2 separate regions of the Homo sapiens genome follow, and region 2 is linked to region 1. Evidence: fine-mapped expression QTL. A gene starts in region 1. The other region holds a variant in brackets. All regions are shown on one strand. Distances are from middle to middle.

The links. PIP is the estimated chance that this variant, and not a neighbour inherited with it, causes the effect. A credible set is the group of variants that fine-mapping cannot tell apart.
Region 2: its variant is the best candidate, but not a certain one, in a credible set for the expression of BMPR2 in whole blood (TOPMed, PIP 0.54).

The regions. Positions count from the first base shown.
Region 1 is chr2:202,371,481-202,382,278 of GRCh38, reverse strand. It overlaps BMPR2 (bone morphogenetic protein receptor type 2), which reads right to left and starts at 5,952. Exons shown (of 13, transcript NM_001204.7): 1 at 4,729-5,952. The coding sequence starts at 4,804. RefSeq lists enhancers at 4,535-4,604, 4,607-5,390, 6,545-6,834, 6,945-7,104 and silencers at 5,445-5,504, 5,575-5,634, 5,765-6,254, 6,405-6,454.
Region 2 is chr2:202,486,885-202,497,682 of GRCh38, reverse strand. All of the region lies in intron 3 of BMPR2 (bone morphogenetic protein receptor type 2), which reads right to left. Among named protein-coding and RNA genes, the nearest start is that of BMPR2, 120 kb to the right of the region's middle. The variant A/G (reference allele first, on the strand shown) is at 4,192.

The DNA of each region.
Region 1 (10,798 bases):
AGACCGGCCTGGCTAGCATAGTGAAACCCCATCTCTACTAAAAATACAAAAATTAACCAGGCATGATGGTGCACACCTATAATCCCAGCTACTCGGGAGGCTGAGGCAGGAGAATGGCTTGAACCTGGGAGGTGGAGGTTGTAATGAGTCGAGATCGTGCCACTCCACTCCAGGCTGTGTGACAGAGCAAGACTCCATCTCAAAAAAAAAAAAAAAAAAACAAAAACAAAAACTGATATCCAGCAGCACAGCAATCTATGAGTAGGTGCCAAAATAAGTGGTGTGGCCAATTATAAAATTAACTGATTCACACAGATTCCACTCAGTATTTTTTTAATGGTTAGAATTTACCCATTAGAGATCAATATTCAATTTCTTCTCTTTTTGTTAAAAAAAAAACTGGCCTTTAATGAAGGAAAGGTTTTGTCTTGTGTGAACAGTTATCTCTCACCTCACTACTCATCCACATCAATACCACTACTATCACATCATCCCACATGCCAGAATAGCTTTTGTAGAGACCAAAGTTTATATCATTTTAATGCAAAAAACTAATTAAGAGGTTGGCCCTCTTCAAAGGGTAAGAAAAGCCTCCCTTCTGGACCATCTTACTGGTTATATGTGGTCTACTGAGAATTTCAATTCTTCGTTCTTCTGCAATAGTACTATATATCCAAATATTACATTAGCCTCATCACAGGCAAAGTGTACTTTGATACCTCTTGTTTCTGAGCTTAGCCTAGCCATATGACTCGGTCAGCCAATGGGATGTTAGGAGAGCAGAGTCTGGAAATGTGCTGGTAGGGTTGGGCTTGGCCTCTTGCACTTCTGCCAATGCCATGACACAAGCCTCCCCCAGATAGATGTTACTTCTCCCTCTAGCCTGGACCCCAGAAAGAGACACATGGAGCAGAATAAATGCCTATTGTTGCATGCCACTAAGATTTTGTGGTTGCCAATAATTACACAGCAAAATGTCACTGAATCACCATATTTAAGAAATCCAGCCCAGGCGTGGTGGCTCATGCCTATAATCCCAGCACTTTCGGAGGCAGAGGCAGGCAGATCACGAGGTCAGGAGTTTGAGATCAGCCTGGCCAATATGGTAAAACCACGTCTCTACTAAAAATACAAAAATTAGCCGGGTGTGGTGGTGCACACCTGTAGTCCCAGCTACTTGGGAGGCTGAGGCAGAAGAATCACTTGAACCCGGGAGGCAGAGGTTGCAGTGAGCTGAGATGGCGCCACTGCACTCCAGTCTGGGTGACCGAGCCAGACTCTGTCTCAAAAAAAAAAAAAAAAAAAAAAAAAAAGAAAGAAAGAAATCCAGGGCCAGGGCCAGGGCCAGGGCCAGGGCCAGGGCCAGGCACAGTGGCCCACACCTATAATCCCAGCATTTTGGGAGGCCGAGGCGGGCAGATCACCTGAGATCAGGAGTTCAAGACCAGCCTGACCAACATGGAGAAACCCTGTCTCTACTAACAATACAAAATTAGCCAGGAGTGGTGGCACATGCCTGTAATCCCAGCTACCCGAGAGGCTGAGGCAGAATTGCTTGAACCCGGGAGGTGGAGGTTGCAGTGAGCCGAGATCACACCATTGCACTCCAGCCTGGGCAACAAGAGCAAAACTCAAAAAAAAAAAAAAAAAGAAAGAAATCCAAACAATCAGGACTGATGATATAAAGCAGTGCTTCTCAAGCACCTGCTTGAGTGAGACTTTGCGGGGGTTCTCCCAGAGAGATTCATTCAGTACATCTGGACTATAGGGCCAAAAATATGCATTTTTATCAAGAACCCCAGGTAATTCTGTTGCAGTACCCACACTTTGAGAAAAACTAAAATGAAGATTACTAAACTTCAGTTACTCAGTAATATTCACTAACATTAGATTAATCTTACTTTATATAATGTGTGTGTTCCTCAAGAGATGTATGTAAAATTGCAATCTAATCAAGTGAATTATTTAAAACGCATTACAGAAGTTGACCTTTAAATAATAGCTGTGTTGTATTCTTTTATTAAGAATTCATTCATAAACCAAGCCAGCACATCTTATTTTTCATAAGTTGTTTTTTTTTTTGGGGGGGGCATAGAAAATGTTCTAAGAATTAGGCGGGGTGTGGTGGCTCATGCCTGTAATCCCAGCACTTTGGGAGGCCGAGGCAGGTGGATCACGAGGTCAGGAGTTCGAAACCACCCTGCCAAAATGGTGAAACCCCGTCTCCACTAAAAATACAAAAAATAAAAATAAATTAGCTGGGCATGGTGGTGGGCTCCCGTAATCTCAGCTAGTCTGGAGGCTGAGGCAGGAGAACCACTTGCGCCTGGGAGGCGGAAGTTGTGGTGAGCCAGGGTCGTGCCACTGCACTCCAGCCTGGGCGACAGAGTGATACTCTGTCTGAACAAAAAAGAAAGAAAGAAAGAAAGAAAGAAAGAAAATGTTCTAAGAATTAAGGAGTCCAAGAACTCAATAAGTGAGAAAGAGGGAATCAAAAGAAATGATTTATCCATGACCCCGAAAAAGGATGTGCTATCAATCAGTCTTCTAGGATTTATTTTCCTGTTCAGCTGCACCATTTGCGCCTGTCGAGTTAACATCACTGCATCTGTGTAACCCAAATCCACACAGGCCCTCTCTAATCAGCTTGCACTTAATGAAGCTGCACTAGCCACTTCAATATTAGGCCAAGCAAAGTTTTACATGTTCAGAACTACGACATTTGCATAACCACTGCTGCACTAACACCTTGTAAGTGTCCCTGCTTCTTTACAAAGGTTGATCTGGTGAAGGCTAATTACTCCATCTCATATATCCAATAAGATGAGAAGTTGTTGCTGCTAGTGCTGCTGTTACCATTAATGTGGTATGTGAGGGCGCACACTATAATCCTGGCTCCATAATTTACTGACTGTGTGGTGAGTTATTCAAATTCTCTGTACTTTACTCTCCCTCTATGGAAAAGGGGAATGATAATAACCTACAACATAGAATTGTCATGAAGACGAAATGAAAAAATATATGTAAAGTTATTTGAATAGCTGATGGTGCATGGCAGGCACTTAATAAATACTAGCTATTATCATTACTGTTACAGGTCTGAAATCCAGCTTCACAAATTTTGTCATCTGGTGCTATGCAATACCAAAGAAAAAAAAGACTACAACCACTTTTAAGCAGTGATTCTTTTACTCTCTCCCTTTTAAGAGACACTATTCTAAGATGATTGTATTACCAAACAAAAATTAAGTTTATTTTTAAATAAATGCTTTTTCTCTTACTTTTATCAGTTCTGATCACAATATTATGAGCACGTCATCATAAATGAGAATCTATATTCTAAAAAGGTTAAGAATAACAAATAACATTGAAAAGCCTATGTTCTGAGATTTCTGCTCATGGAACGTTTAAGGCCTTTTACTCCATATTTTACAGGAACCACATGGCTTATGGCTAGAGAATTTAAATAGCTAACACAATATAAAGAAATTTAGAGAAAAATCATTTTTACTCTGAAAGCAACTACAATTATTAAAAATATTAAAATATCAGTTTTAAAGTAAACTCAGAAGTTCAAATTATTTTAACAGAACCATATAGATTTATCATCAATTTAACAGACATTAATCAACAGTAGACATTATTCAACAATAGCAAAAGCATAAAAGGAAACTTCAAATTTTCTTCGGCATTTTCCTAGATCAGACTTTCAAAATGAAAATAAGCAAGTAACCTCTGTATCTAACATAGCAATGAGAAATTTGTTTAATGTGAAACACACTTATCAAAAGAAAAAAAGTAATTCGAAAGGGTCATTTGGTCCTTTACTCGTTTTAAAAGCACAATCCATTTGCCCATCATAAACCAAGTGTACGAGTTATATGTAGAATTCACTCCTGAAAATTTCTAAAAGCAAATCACCAAAAGGCTGCTTGAAAAAATAGTTGCAAATAGAAGATAAGGTCTTTTTCCTAAGGTTTCTGAGAACTGAAATGAAAATATCCAAAGGAAAGGATGACTACCACCCTTTAGACTTTAGTGAAATGTCAAAGAACTTTCGGAGTCAAATCTCCTAGAAGTCTAATGTCAGGTCAAAGTTGTCTCGACAGCAAAGCCAATAGATAGATGCCAGATGACTAACAGTAAAGTTATCAAACCGTATAATACAATATATCAAGAATCTCACAGTTCTGGCTTCCTCAACATTTATTCTATTCATTCGGTAACATTTCTGAATAATGAAAGGAACATGGATTCCCAGAGTGATCTAAATTTCAAAATAAGGTTCAAGTGTGTGTTCTCTAGTTGATGTTCTTTTTACTATAAGCCAAAACCGCTTCTTTATAATAATAATTTTAAAAATCTACAGGTCTGTTTCCAGAGATCTCATAATAAGCACTGTTCACTGGTGATTAAAATATTATTTTTAATCGTTGCATTACCTCACAGCTAAAAATGTCAAGATACCACACCCAATATGTCTTTTTCACCCCGTAAAGGGGGGTGGGGTGGGAATATGGAAGTGGGGATAGGAAAATACACAAGAATATTAAAGGCGATTTCCCTGGAAGGCATGGGGCAGGCGCGCAGGCACCGGGTCGCAGCTCCGCTGCACCGCGATCGGGGGGACGCATGGCGAAGGGCAAGCACAGGCCTCGGCCTCTGCGGGCTCCCTCCCTCGCCACCCGCAGGGGCAGTGGCCGGGACGTGCCGGCCGGAGCTACTCACCAGCCGCAGTGCTGACCAGCAGGATGGTCCATGGTAGCCAGGGCACCCGCCAGGGCCGCTGCAGCGAGGAAGTCATCCCTGGGCCAGCCAAGAATCAGGAGGGCAAAGAAAAGAAATATGGGAAGTAGACCGGCGGAGAAACAGCCGGGAGGCTCGTCTTCTCTCCCGTGGACTGATCCTGCCCGTATCACAATACAGTTTGAAAGGACAAATGGCTGATGAGAGGACCTAGCTGCAGAGCTTTCATGCCGCTGCAGAAATTCCCTTCATTTCTCTCCCTCGCGGCTGGGGGGGTTCCTTCGCCTCGGACGGGGTGCCGCGGCCCTCCAAACGGAAGGCATGTCTGTGGGGAAAGCAGGGAGCCAAGAAGAAATCCCCCAAATTATTTCCCTCGTAGTTTCACGATATCAAAAAAATATCCAGGTCTGGGAGAAAACATATCCAGGGTGCGGAGGGCGGGGATTCGATCCGGGGTCGGGGGGCGAGGGTCAGAACTAGTTCCCGACTGCCGGGAAGGACGAAGCCGGACGGGCGGCGGCGGCGCCCGGCAGCCCTAGTCGCATCGCCCGCGGCTCCGGGAAGGCAGGATTCCTTAAGTTTCGCTTCGGTGCTTCCTTCACTCTGATTTCGAAAACAACAAATCCTCTTCCTTGACTGGATCAAAAAAGGTGCCTGCCTCCATGGACAAGCTCACAGTCCCCACGCCTTCGCAGAACAACCGTGAGAGGGTTGGGGAGGCCCTGGCGAAGGCTGAGGAGAGGTAGGAGCGGGGGAGGGGAGGGGTCGCGGTCGCGGCCCCGGTCCGGGCTCCCCGAGACGGCAGGCGGAGTGGGTGTGAGAGGCTGCCCCTTCTAGTCCTCCCGGCGGCGCTCCCTTCCCTTCCTCGCTTTTTATTCCTGCGGCTCGATCTTGCCTGAGGTAAATTCCACCAAGAAAGCCTCCTCTTCTCCCGTCAATGGCTCCTGTGAGCGAATCACAACCCCCCGAGGAAGCCGCTGCTGCTGCCGCCGCCGCCGCCGCCGCCGCCGCCGCCGCCGCCTCGTTCTCCCGCAGCTCTGGGCTCCTGACGGAACTCGGGCGTCGCGGACCGAGGGCGGGGGGCGGCGGGAGGGCGGATGAAGGTAGCCGGGGAAGGGGGTGGGCAGGGAGGCGGCGAGACACCCTGCGTCCCTCCGGGAGGCACTTCCAGTGGCTCCGAGCAGACCAGACACAAAGGGGGGAGTCGCCGCAGCTGCCAGTCTGCGGCGCTCCCGGTCACCGGAGTCGCCCCGCCTCCGCCGCCGCCTCCGCCTCCTCCTCAGTCTCCGGCTCTTCCCGGCCCTGTCTGTCTCTAGCCTGTGGTGCAGAGCGGGCGGCGGCGGCGGCGGCGCCGGCGGCGGGATGAAGCCCGCACTGCGCCTGCGCGCTCACGGCCCCGCCCGGCCCCGCCCCTCGTTCGGGGCTGGCTGAGGGCTCCGAGGCCCCACCGCAGCGCGTCTCTCCGGTGAATGGCCGAGGGCTGGGTGGGGCTGCGGTGGGCAGCGGTGGCCTTTCTCCTTCACACACATACACATGCCTTCCAAATGTGCATGGCTTGGGATTCGCGTATTTGTTTAAGAGACGACGGCCACATCCTTTTGTTCGGCGTTCAGCAGACTCCTCCGAGTTCCGGGATTTCTCCCGACTGAGGCGTCTCCGTCTCAGTACTCTCGGAGGAAAGCCTCGAGGGGCAGAACTGCCCTCTGTTGTTTCACGGGGCTGGAACCTCCCTCTCCGCAGCCCAAAGAATCCGGATGGACCCGCCTTTCCCAGAACCGGAGACCTTGGCCTCCTCAGGCTCCCCTCTGACTCAAACAAAAGCCGGAATTGGAAAGACCACCCCTTTGATGTGTTCGCTGTAATCGACGTCCTGCTTTCCTCAACCGCCCATTCCCTTAGCCTTCTTAGTTGACAGGAATATTGAGTATTTGCAAGGATGCGAAGCCAGAAAAAAAAAAAAGACTTTTAATTCTATAAATCGTCCCGCTGCGTGCGCGCGTCTGTCCGTACAGCGCGGTGCCCACCCCGAGAGAGGGCCTGGATTCACCAAGGCTGGGGGCCTTGAGGGCTTTTTAGGGCACGTGAAAGGAAAATGGAGTTAGAGTTGTGTCGGGATAGAGAGTGGGATCATTTTGCACTCAAGGAATTGAGAAGATCCCGTTGGTACCGCAGTTTCCAAGGATTTGTGTAGTGCGTTTTTTGGATCTGGTTTGTACAAGCGACCAGTATAGGAGACGGGATCCCTCCCGCCCTTACACCCCGCTGCGGGGTCAGCCGACGTGGGTGGGATTTTGCTGGCGGCGAGGGGAGAAGGTGACGTGCGTGGCGCCATGATCGGAAGTCTGGACTGAATTCTTAGCTGCGAGGTGGAAAATGCGCGTGGGAGGGCGATCTTGAGGGGTGAAGTCTGGCCTTCCCATCTCCTACCAGGCAGGAGGGTTATGCTGAAGGCTGGTTTTGCTGGTCTTTCATTGTGGCTAAGGGCAGTTCCACAGATACAGTCATAGATAGACTCCTTAAGTCATGCTCTGCTTGCTTCTTCTAGTCCGCTGTTACCTCTTTATCTGAATTTGATGTAAATAAATCTCCACATTCCTTAAACTGGTTCTGTTATACTAAACATCTTCCATAATTAGGGGTTGTAGCAATACCAACCCCGGATTCTAAGACTCTTTTTAGTTGAAATATGTTTATGCTGTTTACCCTTTAGACAGAGAAAAAAAAATTCTACCTAGTAAAATCCCTTAAAAAGACGAAGAGCATATGCTTTGATTCATTAGCTTTATTTATTTAGGTTTTATTTATTTATTTATTTATTTATTGAGGCGGAGTCTTGCTCTGTCGACCAGGCTGCGGTGCAGTGGCGCGATCTCGACTCACTGCAACCTCCACCTCCCAGGTTCAAGCAATTCTCCGGCCTGAACCTCCCGAGTAGCTGAGATTACAGGCGGCGCCATCACGCCCGGCTAATTTTTGTATTTTTAGTGGAGACAGGGTTTCACCATGTTTGCCAGGCTGGTCTCGAACTCCTGACCTCACGTGATCCGCCCGTCTCGACCTCCCAAAGTGCTGGGATTACAGACGTGAGCCACCGCCCCCGACCGATTCTTTATAGCTTTATTACTGTATTTTGTTTTGCCCAAAAGGTCTAAATTAGAAACGGTATTGTTTTACCATTTGTCTTTCAAGAACTGAGAGTTTCTAGCACTCAGAGAAATTGGATTTTAGTATGTTAGAGGTGCAGAAAGTTTAAAGTTTATTAATTCGTAGTACACTTTTATCTTCCTCAAATTGAGATCAAGTACTTCATCATTCAATTTTTATTTGCTTAAGATTTTTTCCAAGAAACATTAAGTGTCCTTTTTGTAGTTCCCCCTTATCCACCGTTTCAGTTACCTGCAGTCAACCACGGTCTGAAAATATTACATGGAAAGTTCCAGAAATAATAAGTGGTGTTTTTTTTTGTTGTTGTTGTTTTTGTTTTTTTTGAGACGTAGTTTCTCTTTTGTTGCCCAAGCTGGAGCACAATGGCACGATCTCAGCTCACAGCAACCTCCGCCTCCCAGACTCAAGCGATTCTCCTGCCTCAGCCCCCTGAGTAGCTGGGATTACAGGCATGCGCCACCACACCCGGCTAGTTTTGTATTTTTAGTAGAGATGGAGTTTCACCATGTTGGTCAGCCTGGTCTCGAACTCCTGACCTCAGGTGATCCGCCCTTCTGGCCTCCCAAAATGATAGGATTAGAGGCGTGAGCCACTGCGCCTGGCCTCATAAATTTTAAATTGAGTACTGTTACTAACTAGCTGTGAGGAAATCGCTGCCATCCCACACTGTCCTTCTGGGATGTGAATCATGGTTTGTACAGTGTATCCGCTATAACCTCCTTAATCACTTAGTAGCAGTCTCTTATCAGACTGACTGTGGCAGTATGCAATATCCAAGTGCTTGTGTTCAACTAACCCTCGTTTTACTTAATAATGGCCCCAAAGCACAAGAGTAGTGATGCTGGCAATTCAGCCATACAGAAGCTGTAAAGTGCTTCCTGTAAGTTAAAACGTCAGAGTTCTTGCCTGTAATCTCAGCACTTTGGGAGGCCGAGGCAGGCAGATCACAAGGTCAGGATGATCGAGACCATCCTGGCTAACACGGTGAAACCCTGTCTCTACTGAAAATACAAAAAAATTAGCCAGGCGTGGTGGCAGGCGCCTGTAGTCCCAGCCACTCGGGAGGCTGAGGCAGTGAATGAATGGCATGAACCCGGGAGGTGGGGCTTGCAGTGAGCCGAGATCATGCCACTGGACTCCAGCCTGGGCGACAGAGCAAGACTCTGTCTCAAAAAAAAAAAAAAAAAAAAAAAAAAAAAAAAAAAAAAAGTCAGAGTTCTTGACTTAATAAGGAGGGAAAAAAATTATAGGCTGAGGTTGCTAAGATTGCTGGTAACAATGAATCTTTGGCAGGGTGCAGTGGCTCACGTCTGTAATCCCAGCACTTTGGGGGACCAAGGCAGGAGGATCACTTGAGGTCAAGAGTTCAAGACCTGCCTGGCCAACATGGTGAAACCCCGTCTATACCAAAAATACAAAAATTAGCTGGGAGTGGTGGCACGTGCCTGTAATCCCAGCAGCTACTCCGGAGGCTGAAGCAAGAGAATCACTTGAACGCAGGAGGTGGAGGTTGCCCATTGCACTCTAGCCCGGGCGATAGAGACTCTGGCAAAAAAAAAAAAAAAAATCTATCTGTGAAACTGAATTGTGAAGAAAAAATAAATTCATGCTAGTTTTGCTGCCATACCTCAAACTGCAAAAGTGATGGCCACAATGTGTAATAAGTGCTTAGTTAAGATGGAAAAGGCATTAAATTTGTGGGTAGAAGACATAATAGAAATGTATTCCAGTTTATAGCAATTGGGTTCAGTACTGTCTGCAGTTTCAGGCATCCACTGGAGGTCTTGGAACAAGTTCCTTGTGGATAAGGGGCAGGGAGGACTACCGTACATGTTATAAATGTATGATAAATTATATAGAACATAAAGAAAAGGTCTTAGGAAATTCACAAGAAAAAACACATGCCGCTGACTTGGTAGGTAGACAACTAGATATGTACCCTCTTCCCTTTTCTGTTCCTTCTTGTGATATTTCAGTTGGGACATGGCTGTTCACTCACAGTGAGAAAGAACATCAAAGAACAGAATTAAGACTTGGCAAGAAACCTGTCCACGACAAAAGGCAGACAATGTAAGTCAAGCTCAGCTGAGAACAAAGGACTGGTGATGCAGGTGAGGTTTGGCATCTGTACTAATTAGGATGGGCTAAATTACAGTAACATTCACCAAATCTCAGCATCTTATTGCAATAAAGGTTTATTTCTCACACATGTTACATGTTTGATATAAGTCATCAGGGGACCCATCGCAACTTGAGTTCACAGGAAATAGACACTGAAACTCTGAAATTTGTATGCAGGAGGTTATTACCTAATGATGGCAAGAGCAACCTCTGTGGGGATTGAGGGATGCAAGACTGGGCAGAGGGAGAAGTTGAATTGCAACACATTTGCAACTGAGGCATCAATCAATCCTGCAGGAATTCTGGAGCTGGGCTGGCCTTTCAGCATTGTCCTAATCTGTGTCTGCTAACACTTTAAGGTACACCTAAAAGACCCCCCAAACCCAGCAAGCTTTTCATTCAAGATTCCTTCAGTGGAGTACATCTAGGGAAAAAGTCCCTCAAGTATACTGATAATTTAGGCTCCTTGAATGCTGCCTTGGAGTAGGAAATCCAGCATTAGACAGACTGCCTAGCCAAGTTGGGTAAAACCAGTAAATTTTTTTTTTTTTTTAAAGACGGAGTTTCGCTCTTGTAGCCCAGGCTGGAGTGCATTGGCACGATCTTGGCTCACTGCAACCTCCGCCTCCCGCGTTCAAGCAATTCTCCTGCCTTAGCCTCCCAAGTAGCTGGGATTACAGGCTTGTGCCACCATGCCCGGCTAATTTTTGTATTTTTAGTAGAGATGGGGTTTCACCATGTTGGCCAGGCTAGCCTCGAACTCCTG
Region 2 (10,798 bases), 120 kb before region 1:
ACGATAGATGGGCAAGTCTCACTTGGGTGACATGCCTTTGAGAGTTCTGCCCATGGCCGCAGGGTCAACCAACTTGTTGTTGGGACCCCGGAGCTGCATGGCTTTCCTCTTTGTCGACCCTTGACTCAGTCCAGAAGTACAGGAAAAGCGGAAGCTGGTTCTAGGCAAACCAATGGTCCCAACTCCGAAGAGTCGGGGGTTGTTAGAGAGCCCTTTCCCAGAAAGCCTGACACCCGTGTCTTTACTCTGGCAGCTGCGCTAGTCACTTTTAACTGGCCAATAAGGTGCCCGGTATTTAGCCCCCGAATTCTAAGGAAAGACAGGACAGAATAGCAAGCGAAAGGGGTCCGATGGTACTCACTGCTTGCGGATAGGTGATGCTCTCACCGCTCAGCGATTGTCTCACCGCTTGGCAATGGGACTGGGCGCCGTGGAGCAGGGGGCGGCACTCATCGGGGAGGCTCGGGCCGCACAGGGGCCCATGGAGGGGGTGGGAGGCTCAGGCATGGCGGGCTGCAGGCCCGAGCCCTGCCCCGCGGGAAGGCAGCTAAGACCCGGTGAGAAATCAAGAGCAGTGCCGGTTGGCTGGCACTGCTGGGGGACCCAGTGCACCCCCCGCAGCCGCTGGCCCGGGTGCTAAGCCCCTCATTGCCTGGGGCCGGCAGGGCTGGCCGGCTGCTCCGAGTGCGGGGCCCGCCAAGCCCATGCCCACCCGGAACTCCAGCTGGCCCGCAAGCGTGGCACGCAGCCCTGGTTCCTGCTCGCGCCTCTCCCTCCACACCTCCCTGCAAGCTGAAGGAGTGGGCTCCGGCCTCGGCCAGCCCAGAAAGTGGCTCCCACAGTGCAGTGGTGGGCTGAAGGGCTCCTCAAGTGCTGCCAAAGTGGGAGCCCAGGCAGAGGAGGCGCTGAGAGCGAGCGAGGGCGGTAAGGACTGCCAGCACGCTGTCACCTCTCAGTAGTTCTGAACATTATTTTTTCCCCATAGGGTCAAAAGGCACCTAAGTATAAGATTGTAAGTGAAAAAATAAGGAACAGAAATGAGGTATTGGTGGTTTTTCCATTTTTATTTGCATGTGGATTTTCAATATAAATGTGGGACATAAAGCATTAATGCGGGTCAAAACATTTCAGTGAACAAGTTTTAGAAGTTCAACTTCATAACAATTATTTAATTTGTTCTTTTGATTTTTTTTTGTTTTTGTTTTTGAGACAGGGTCTCACTTTGTCGCTCAGGCTGGAGTGCAATGGTATGACCATGGCTCACTACAGCCTCAGCCTCCCAGGCTCAAGCGATCCTATCACCTCAGCCTCCCAAGCATCTGGTCTCATGCCACCATGTCTGGCTAATTTTTATTTTTTGTAGAGACAGGGTTTTGCCATGTTGCTCAGGATGGTCTCAAACTCCCGGGCTCAAGCAATCTGCCTGTCCTGGCCTCCCAAAGTGCTGGAATTACAAGCATAAACCACCATGCCTGGCCATAACAATTATAAATAAACCTGTTAAATTTTTCTGGATAATGCCTGCATTTGGATTTTTGGAAAATAAGTAAATTTCTTATTGACAGCAACTAAATGATGTTTGCAGCATTTTAATCATAGAGTAGGTTCCATCTGTTCACTCTACTTTTTTGAGTTGTCCTACATTCAAGCACGTTTTTAACGCTGTCTTTTTGCTGTTCCTGTTTGTTACTAAAATACATTAAACTATAAAATAAAAATAAGTGATCTTGTAAGTGACTTTTAAGGTCCTCCTACTTCCAAAACTCTGTATAATGAGTCTTCTCATACAGTTTTTTGAAGGCTCAGCATTCTTTGCTTTTATTCTCAAATTTATAAAAGAAAATTTAACAAAACTTTTACATTAAACATTCATTAATTCAAAATCTGAAATGGATTATTAATTCATATATTGGAGAGAATGAAAAAAGTTTTAAAACATTTTAAACATGTTATAGTGCTGGGAAGGGAACAGTGTGCCCTCCTTAAATGACACGGAAGTGGGGAGGTAAGTAATGGGTAGAGAAAGGTGCGTCCCTGACTAGGGCTCCACCCCAACAGACCTAGGTGAGGACAGGCACTCCTGCTTTCCCGTCCAAATGTTGCATTTCCAAGACCACCCGGACCCGCCATGTCCCCATCCTGGGCCTATAAAAACCCGAGACCCTAGCAGGCAGACACACAGGCGGCCAGACGTAAAGAGGAGCACATCGGCGGAAGAAAGTGGCTGGTCGTCGAGAGGAGCACGCCAGCAGAAGAGCACAACGATAGGCACCCGCACGCCGGCAGGCCGTCGACAGAACGACAACGACGCGGAGTTTGGCTGGGGCAGACGGAGGAGAGCCCTGGCCACCAAGCGGCCCAACTCCAGGAGAAAACCATCTCCCTTCTGGTTCCCCCATCTGCTGAGAGCTACTTCTACTAATAAACCTTGCACTCATTCTCCAAGCCCAGGTGTGAGCCGACTCTTCCCGTACACCAAGGCAGGAAACCCTGGGATACAGAAATCCCTCTGTCCTTGTGATAAGGAAGGGGGTCTAATTGAGCTAACACAAGCCGCCTATAGATGGCAAACTAAAAGAGCACCCTGTAACACACGCCCACTGCGGATTCAGGAGCTGTAAACATTCACTCCTAGACACTGTTGTGAGGTCGGAGCCCCACAGCCTACCTGTCTGTATGGTCCCCTAGAGGTCTGAGCAGCGGGGCACTTAAGAAGTGAGCCACACCCCGCATCACGCACCCTGTCAGGACAAGGGAACTTTTCCCATTTCATTATAAACCATATGATTGGTTAAATTTCAAATAAAAACTTTCCAAGCCTCTGTCACATGGTCTAAAAATATGAGATCCCTGAAAAACTGCCAGGAAAAATATTTCAATATGTGTATTCACGTGTACGTGCAAAAGAGGCCTTTAACTAGAAAACTCCTATTTTTTGTTGTCTATTTCTTCAAAATAAAAAAACCTTTTTACATAACATATGCTACATCTATGTTATACCTGAATTGTCTTGTTCTCCTACCTCTAATAAACCCTCTTTTTCTTCCCTATTAAGTTTTCTCAGTTAAATACTCAGCCAAATGTAAACACTACTATGTATGCCTGTGCAATAGTTGGGCTTATACAAGCAAACACTTCCTGAATGCAGAACAGACAGGGAACCTCTGTCTGTCTCATTGGAGCCTGGGATGTTTCTGTTTACAAATCCTGGAGCCAGGCGGGGGCCACTACTGGAGGCGTTCTGTCTGTTTCCTTGCTACACTCAGCTTTTGTCTGGGTCTGTGTCAAAGAAAGAACAACATTGTAACATGTGCAGCAAGCAGCAAAGGGAAGCTTAAATATAACACACTAGTGGTTATGTCAGCTCCTTAATCTTTTACCACTGTGTAGAAAGGCAAATTGGGGATTAGTTTTTGTAGTTTTCAAGCAATGTAGCTTTCATACAAGTAGAGAAAAACATTTAAATCCAAAACGATGTGATCAGTTAAGTGAATTCATTAGCAAAATAATCCAAATTGTTATGATATTGTTTCTGTACTATGATTTATTGTGGAGCTCAATGTTTTGAACAAATGTTTTTATAGGAAATAAACGTTGCTTTTAATTAATATGTTTGGAATGGCAGTAATCATAATCAGACTAATGTTTACATTTAATGCCCTAAAAAATTGAGAGGGGGCAGATTTCTTGTTTTTTCAAACAAGTAGTTAATACTGAATATGAAAGACTGGTTTAAATTTAACTTGTTAATCATTTTGAATAGATCTAGCTTGGAAGAAAAAGCAAAAAATAACAACAAAAAAAATAGCCCATACTTGGCTAATTGAATCAAGGCATTCGATGAGTGAATTATGAAAGAAACAGTGAAAAACTGAAGAAGAGAGAGAAATAACAGTCTAAAGTTAAATTCCACCCCCGCCAAAAGGTTAGAAAAGACATGAAAAAATGGGAAAAACATTCAGTGCCCCTCCTCCTTAACTTTTAGCTCCATAAGTATTTACAATTTTAATTTCTTTAGAGTGTATTTTAAATAGCTATTTTATGATTAGGAGAGACAATTTCAGCAATTTGTTTATTTTATTAAAGAATGAATTAAAACAGTTAATTATATTTGATTGGAATAAAATCATTAAATAAAAAATGGAAAGATCACATTTAAGTAAACAGACTAGGAATTTTAAAAATACAAGA[A/G]AAATAGAAGAATTAATTTGCAGACCATTGTACATCAAAACATTTCATCGAAGAATAAAGAAAACACCATTAAATATGCTCTCAAAGTATTTTTGGTATAATTCTACTTTAATTACCTCTATTGTACTAAGATTGTACTTTTTAGATATGATAGAACAGAGTCTGTTACTCTATACAACTTTAAAAAAAAAGTATTTAATGATTCTTAGAAAACACCAATAACCTAATTGAGTAAGAAATGTCCATTTAAGCCTAAAGTTACCACTAGAAAAATGGAAACCTAGTCACTATAATAGTCATTATTTAAAACAAAACAAATTAAAAATAAAATTCACAATACAGAAAATTCACGAGACTCACAATATAGAACTAAACCAAAGACTATGTCACTCAAAGATCCCTCGTCAATTTTCCTAACTGCTCTACAAAATGACAGTTCTAAATTCAGAATCCATACTCAAGAACTGTTTTCAGAAAATGACCATGAACTAATTTGACTATCAAAGTGAAAGCTGTATCTTCCAGTTATTTACTGATTGAACAACAAAATATGAATCACATCAGCAGGCAACTCCCTCAATTCATTTTATGTTATTTTAATTATCATAGTAACCTTTGCTCTCTTATAAGGAAAACAAGATAGATATTTGGAGAAAAACAAATAACTTTTTTTCCCCATTAAATTTCTCCTGGTCTGTTTCCTAGTTGTTTCCCTTGCTCTAGCTTTCCCACTTCGCACACTGATTTCCTTTTTGTTTTTTTTTTTGGTTTTTTTTTTTTTTTTTTTTTTTGAGACAGAGCTTCGCTATTGTCGCCCAGGCTAGAGTGCAATGGCGGGATCTCTGTTTACTGCAACCTCTGCCTCCTGGGTTCAAGTGATTCTCCTGCCTCAGCCTCCCAAGTAGCTGGGATTAGAGGTGCCTGCCACCACACCTGGCTAATTTTTGTACTTTTAGTAGAGAAGGGGTTTTGCTATGTTGGCCAGGCTGGTCTCGAACTCCTGGTCTCAAGTGATCTGCCTGCGTAGGCCTACCAAAGTGCTGGGATTACAAGCGTGAGTCACCACTTGTAACCGCCCATCCTGACTTCCATTTTTTAAACCTTACAAAATATAACCCACAAAATTATATACATTTTCGTGTATAATGTATAAGCATTATACACGAAAATGTTTATAATACAAAATGCAGAGCTTGGTGAATCATGATGAAGCAAACACTTATGTAACTAGCACCAAGGCCACAAAATACAACACCAAGGGTCCCAAAAGTCTCCTACCTGCTCCTACCTGTTCCTAACATCCTTCCTCTGCCCCAGAAATAGTCACTATTCTGACTTCTGTGGTAATCATTTCCTTGCTTTTCTTAATAGTATTACTATCACTGAATGCTGAGTTTTTTTGCCTATTTCTGAATTTTATATAAATGGAATTTTTGTGCCTTGCTTCTTCAGTTCAGTAATATGTTTTGAAGATTTAACCATGGTGTTTGTATGTAGCTGAAAATAATTCAGGGCTGTTTTTCTATGTAACAAATGTAGCTACTTTTCCTTGTAAGGAGCCTGGGGACTATAATGACAATAAAAAGAACATTGTGTGTAATTCCTTTTACATTCCACAAATGTATACATTTGATTTTTTAGTTATATTTAGGACTTTAATTTTGTTGCTAAGAGAAGAATTTTAAATGAAGCAGACAAATAGGCTGTACATCCTCTAGTTGTTTCTCTTTTGGCACTAGAGGCAGTAGTCAGCAATAAGGCAGGCCAGAGTTAGTAAAAGATGCACCTGGCCAGGCGTGGTGCCTCATGCCTGTAATTCCAGCACTTTGAGAGGCTGAGGCGGGTGGATCTCCTGACCTGACCAATATCATGAAACCTGGTCTCCGCTAAAAATACAAAAATTAGCTGGGTGTAGTGGTGGGTGCCTGTAATCCCAGCTACTCTGGAGGCTGAGACAAGAGAATTGCTTGAACCCGGGAGGCGGAGGTTGCAGTGAGCCGAGATCGTGCCACTGTACTTCAGCCTGGGGGACAGAGTGAAACTCCATCTCAAAAAAAAATAAAAAATAAAAAAAGAGACGTACTTAGGGAAGGAACAGAATAGACAGAAAAGCTTGGGAATAAAGAGGTAGGGTGGGCTCGGAGCAGTGGCTCATGACCGCAATCTCAGTACTTTGGGAGCCCAAGGCGGGAGGATCACTTAAGCCCAGCAGTTCAAGACCAGCCTAGACAACCTGCCAAGACCCCATCTCTACAAACAATTAAAAGATTAGCCGGGTGTAGTGGCGCATCTGTGTAGTCCCAGCTACTCAGCAGGCTGAGGTGGGAGGACTGCTTGAGCCCAGGAGTTCCAGACCAGCCTGGGCAACATGGCGAGACCCCATCTCTACCAAAAATACAAAAATTAGCCGGGCATAGTGGTGCATGCCTGTAATCCCAGCTACTCGGGTAGGAGAATCAATTGAACCTGGGAAGCTGAGGTTGCAGTGAGTCAAAATTGTGCCACTGCACTCCAGCCTGGGCAAGAAGAAGACTCTGTCTCCAAAAACAAAAAACAAAAAACAAAACAAAAAACAAAAACAAAAAAACATTGCTCAGATCCTACAAACCATACTCCTTATATAGTGAGAGTAAGGAAGTAACAATATCAAGGGCACTGATGACCCTAAGGGGAGTTTAGATTAATTGTTGCTGGTACTTGATCTCTAAAACAGACACTTCTTTTCCCTAATCCTACTCTTTACCCTTCCTATTCTTTTATGTTCTCTTCTTTCTCCCTGTACATATTTCTGTCTGCAAACCTGTCTCAGAGGCATTCACATGTCCTGCTTAGAAGCACTGGAGAAATTCTGGCATATGCAGGAAGTTCTATTTTTAATCCAACTCTATCTTGGTTTTAAAACAAAATAAAACAAAAACAGACAAAAGTAAAAGCTAGCAGAGTGAGAAAAGTATTTTTTATTTATATCATTGTGGGTACATTTTGGATGTCCATTCTTACATGCAAAGAACTTATTTTCATTTTCAAGGAAATGAATGTATACCATACACAAAAAATAAGTGGTACTAAATGTATAGGTTCCAATACATACTTGTGTGTGTGCATTTGTGTATATATACATATCTTTGAGTAGCTATATATTTAGTACAACCTCGTGTGTGTGTGTGTGTGTACATACCTTTTGACTTTAGAAGGTAACTCTCTTTACTTCCTAAAATTGTCACTTCCCTATAATGAAAATATATCCACCTTCTGCCACGGCCTCGTGATAGATGGAGTGTACCTCCTTGCCCCTTGACTTTGAATCTGGCCACATAACTTGATCAGACCAATGAGAAGCTGACAAATATAAGGCGAGCAGAAATCTAAAATATGCTTGGGTAGCTGCGTTTGCACTTCTTATGAGCAGGCAATCCACTATTGATAGAAGCTTGAGTAAATGTTGCCCCTTGATCGTGGGTCCCAGACAAAAAGATATGAATTGATCCTGAAGCCTGAAGCTGAGTCCTGCCTAGATCAGCCAAAATCCAGCTGTTCTACAAACCTATGATTATGAGAATAAATGCTTGTTGTTAAAGCCACTGAGCTTAGGGGTGGCTTGCTGATGAAGTATTATCAGCAACAGCTGACTGATATATTAGTATGCCTACTACTGCCCATGTAACATCTTACGTAGGTGTGTGTCAACATATAAAACTTTCAATTTTCTAAAAATTCTGTCCATGTTTTTCTCACAATTGTAGACAAAATTTTATCCAAACAAAGGAGTCTGTAAGTAATGCCCAGAATCCCACTACTAACTATAAAATGAATTTTTAACACTGTTAAAATTAATCATGTTTGTTTATTTAAAACACAGCACTTCAGTTGTTTTGTGGGGTAAGATATGTAATATTCCTAAAGATCAACATTTATTTACCACTTGTGAGATGTATAAACCTTAAACTACAACTTTAAATCTACTTCTATCTTCAGCACCTTCTTCTTAGTCCAATTATATTCTAACTTTCTCTCTAGGTTATATAGGAATTCCATCTATTGTGACTTAAATTAATCACCACTGTCTTTACTTTTATAATTGTCTTATTCCTTGCTTTTCGTTCCCTTAACTTTGTTTTTCTTTTTTCATATCTCCATTTACTTTAAAATCTGAAAAACAGTACACAAAATGGTACAAAAGAACAACAAAGGCCGGGCGTGGTGGCTCACGCCTGTAATCCCAGCACTTTGGGAAGCCAAGGAGGGTGGATCGCCTGATGTCAGGAGTTTGAGACCAGCCTGGTCAATATGGTGAAACCCCATCTCTACTTAAAATACAAAAAATTAGCTGGGTGTAATGGCAGCCACCTGTAATACCAGCTACTCGGGAGGCTGAGGCAGGAGAATCACTTGAACCCAGGAGGCAGAGGTTGCAGTGAGCTGAGATTGTGCCGTTGCATTCCAGCCTGGGCGACAAGAGCAAAACTCCACCTCAAAAAAAAAAAAAAAAAGTAACAAAAAGACAGATACCTTATGATTCCACTTATATGAGGTATCTCAAGTAGTAAAATTCATCAGACACAAAGTGGAATGGTAATTGCCAAGGGTTGGGAGCAGGGGAGATTGGTGAGTTGTTTAATGGGTATAGAGTTTCAGTTTTGCAAGACAAAAAGAGTTCTGGAGGTTGGTTACACAATAATGTGAATGTGCTTAATGCTACTAAACTGTGCACTTAAAAATTACTATGAGAGTAAATTTTATATTTTTAAAAATGGTTAAACTCTGTGCATGCTGGCTCACACCTGTAATTCTAGCACTTTGGGAGGCCGAGGCAGGAGGATTGCTTGAAGCCAGGAGCTTGAGACCATCCTGAGGAACACAGCAAGACCCTGTCTCTACAAAACATTAAAAAAAAGATTCTAGCTACTAGGGAGGCTGAAGTGGGAGGATCACTTGAGCCCAGGAGTTTGAGGCTGCTGTGAGCTATGATCATGCCACCGCACTCCAGCCTGGGAGACAGAGTGAGAACCTGACTCTGTTTTTTTGTTTTTTTGTTTAAAAAGGTTAAGACAGTAAATTTCACATTTTAAAAAACAGTCTAAGGGTGGTTCTCACCTTTTTCAAAAGATGTTTTATTTTTAAAATATTAAGAATATACATATAAACACCTGAACTCACACAATTTTCAGTATTTATAAAATGCTTTATAATACTGTCAGCACTTATGTCATAATATTGTAATTATTGGCATAATTACAATATTCCAATCTACCCATATTCCTTCCTGACATATTCACCTTTATACCCTCAACAGGAGTTCACGGATAGGGATAATAAAGAGAATGAGAAACAAAATCGTATTCACCTCTTTATTGCCAATATTTGAAAGTGGCTTGCATGCATAGTGTGTATTCAATACCTGTTGAATGAATGAATGGATACATGAATAAATACATGATGGGGAGCACTAATGACAAGATTATACTGGAAATAGGCTGGGCGCAGTGGCATGCGGAGGCTCACGCCTGCAATCCCAGCACTTTGGAAGGGTGAGGCATGCTAATCACCTGAGGTCAAAAGTTCAAGACCAGCCTGGCCAAAATAGCGAAACCCAATCTCTCCTAAAATTACAAAAATTGGCCGGGTGTTGGTGGTGCACCCCTATAGTAAAAAAATCTTGAGGGTGGGGCCAACAATCTGTTTTCAAGGGCCTCCAAACTGATACTGATTAATGCTAAAGTTTGAGGATCATTATTCAAGTGCTCTCAACAATTCTGCAATCATTTTAATAATTTGCTGTCCTTTCTTACATAAACTAGCTAGGTGGTATTTTCTTCGAGGAAACTGAACCCAGACCAGTTCAGAAAAATACAAAAAGTATAACTTGATTGTGGTGCAATACAGGCAAAGTAAACCCTTCAGAATAGAACACTTGACTTTATAGCAGTGTTCTGGCGTTTGCATTGATTTGTGATAGAGAAGCAGCCTCAAATATTATCCTCTACGTTTTTATCTTATTGATTTTTTAACTGTAATTCAAGTTTCATGGAAATCTGATCATTATTTATTAGTGATATAAAGACAAACTACTTACTATTCCAGGAAAATTATTATGTTCAAATTCTTGTTAGTATTAACTCTGATGTATGAATCTGATTCATTATACAGAATTCTCAATTTTCAGTCTACAAATTCATTAGAAGTGCCCAACCTGGGGTCTTCTTTAGCCATTAAGTTCCTAGATGACTATTATAAAACAGACTAAGTTACTTTCAGTGTTAGAAAAAAAAACCTCTTGAAAATCAAACTTATTTATGCATAATAAAGCTTCATAGGCTTACATATGCCAGGTGTCTTTGCTTAAGTAAAATTTTATTTTCAGAACATAATTAAAAAATAGTTTGCTATCATGCGGATAAAAAGCTCTATTAGGCAGGCATTTTTTTATTAATAAAAATGGGGAAATCAATTATAATAAGTATAATTTGTACAGCATAATTTCTTTCAAAATATAAGACCCATGAGAATACACAGCTCACTGTAGCCTCCATCTCCCTGGGGCTCAGGTGATCCTCCCACCTCAGACTCCTGAGTGGCTGGCACTACAGGCGTGCACCACCACACCCAG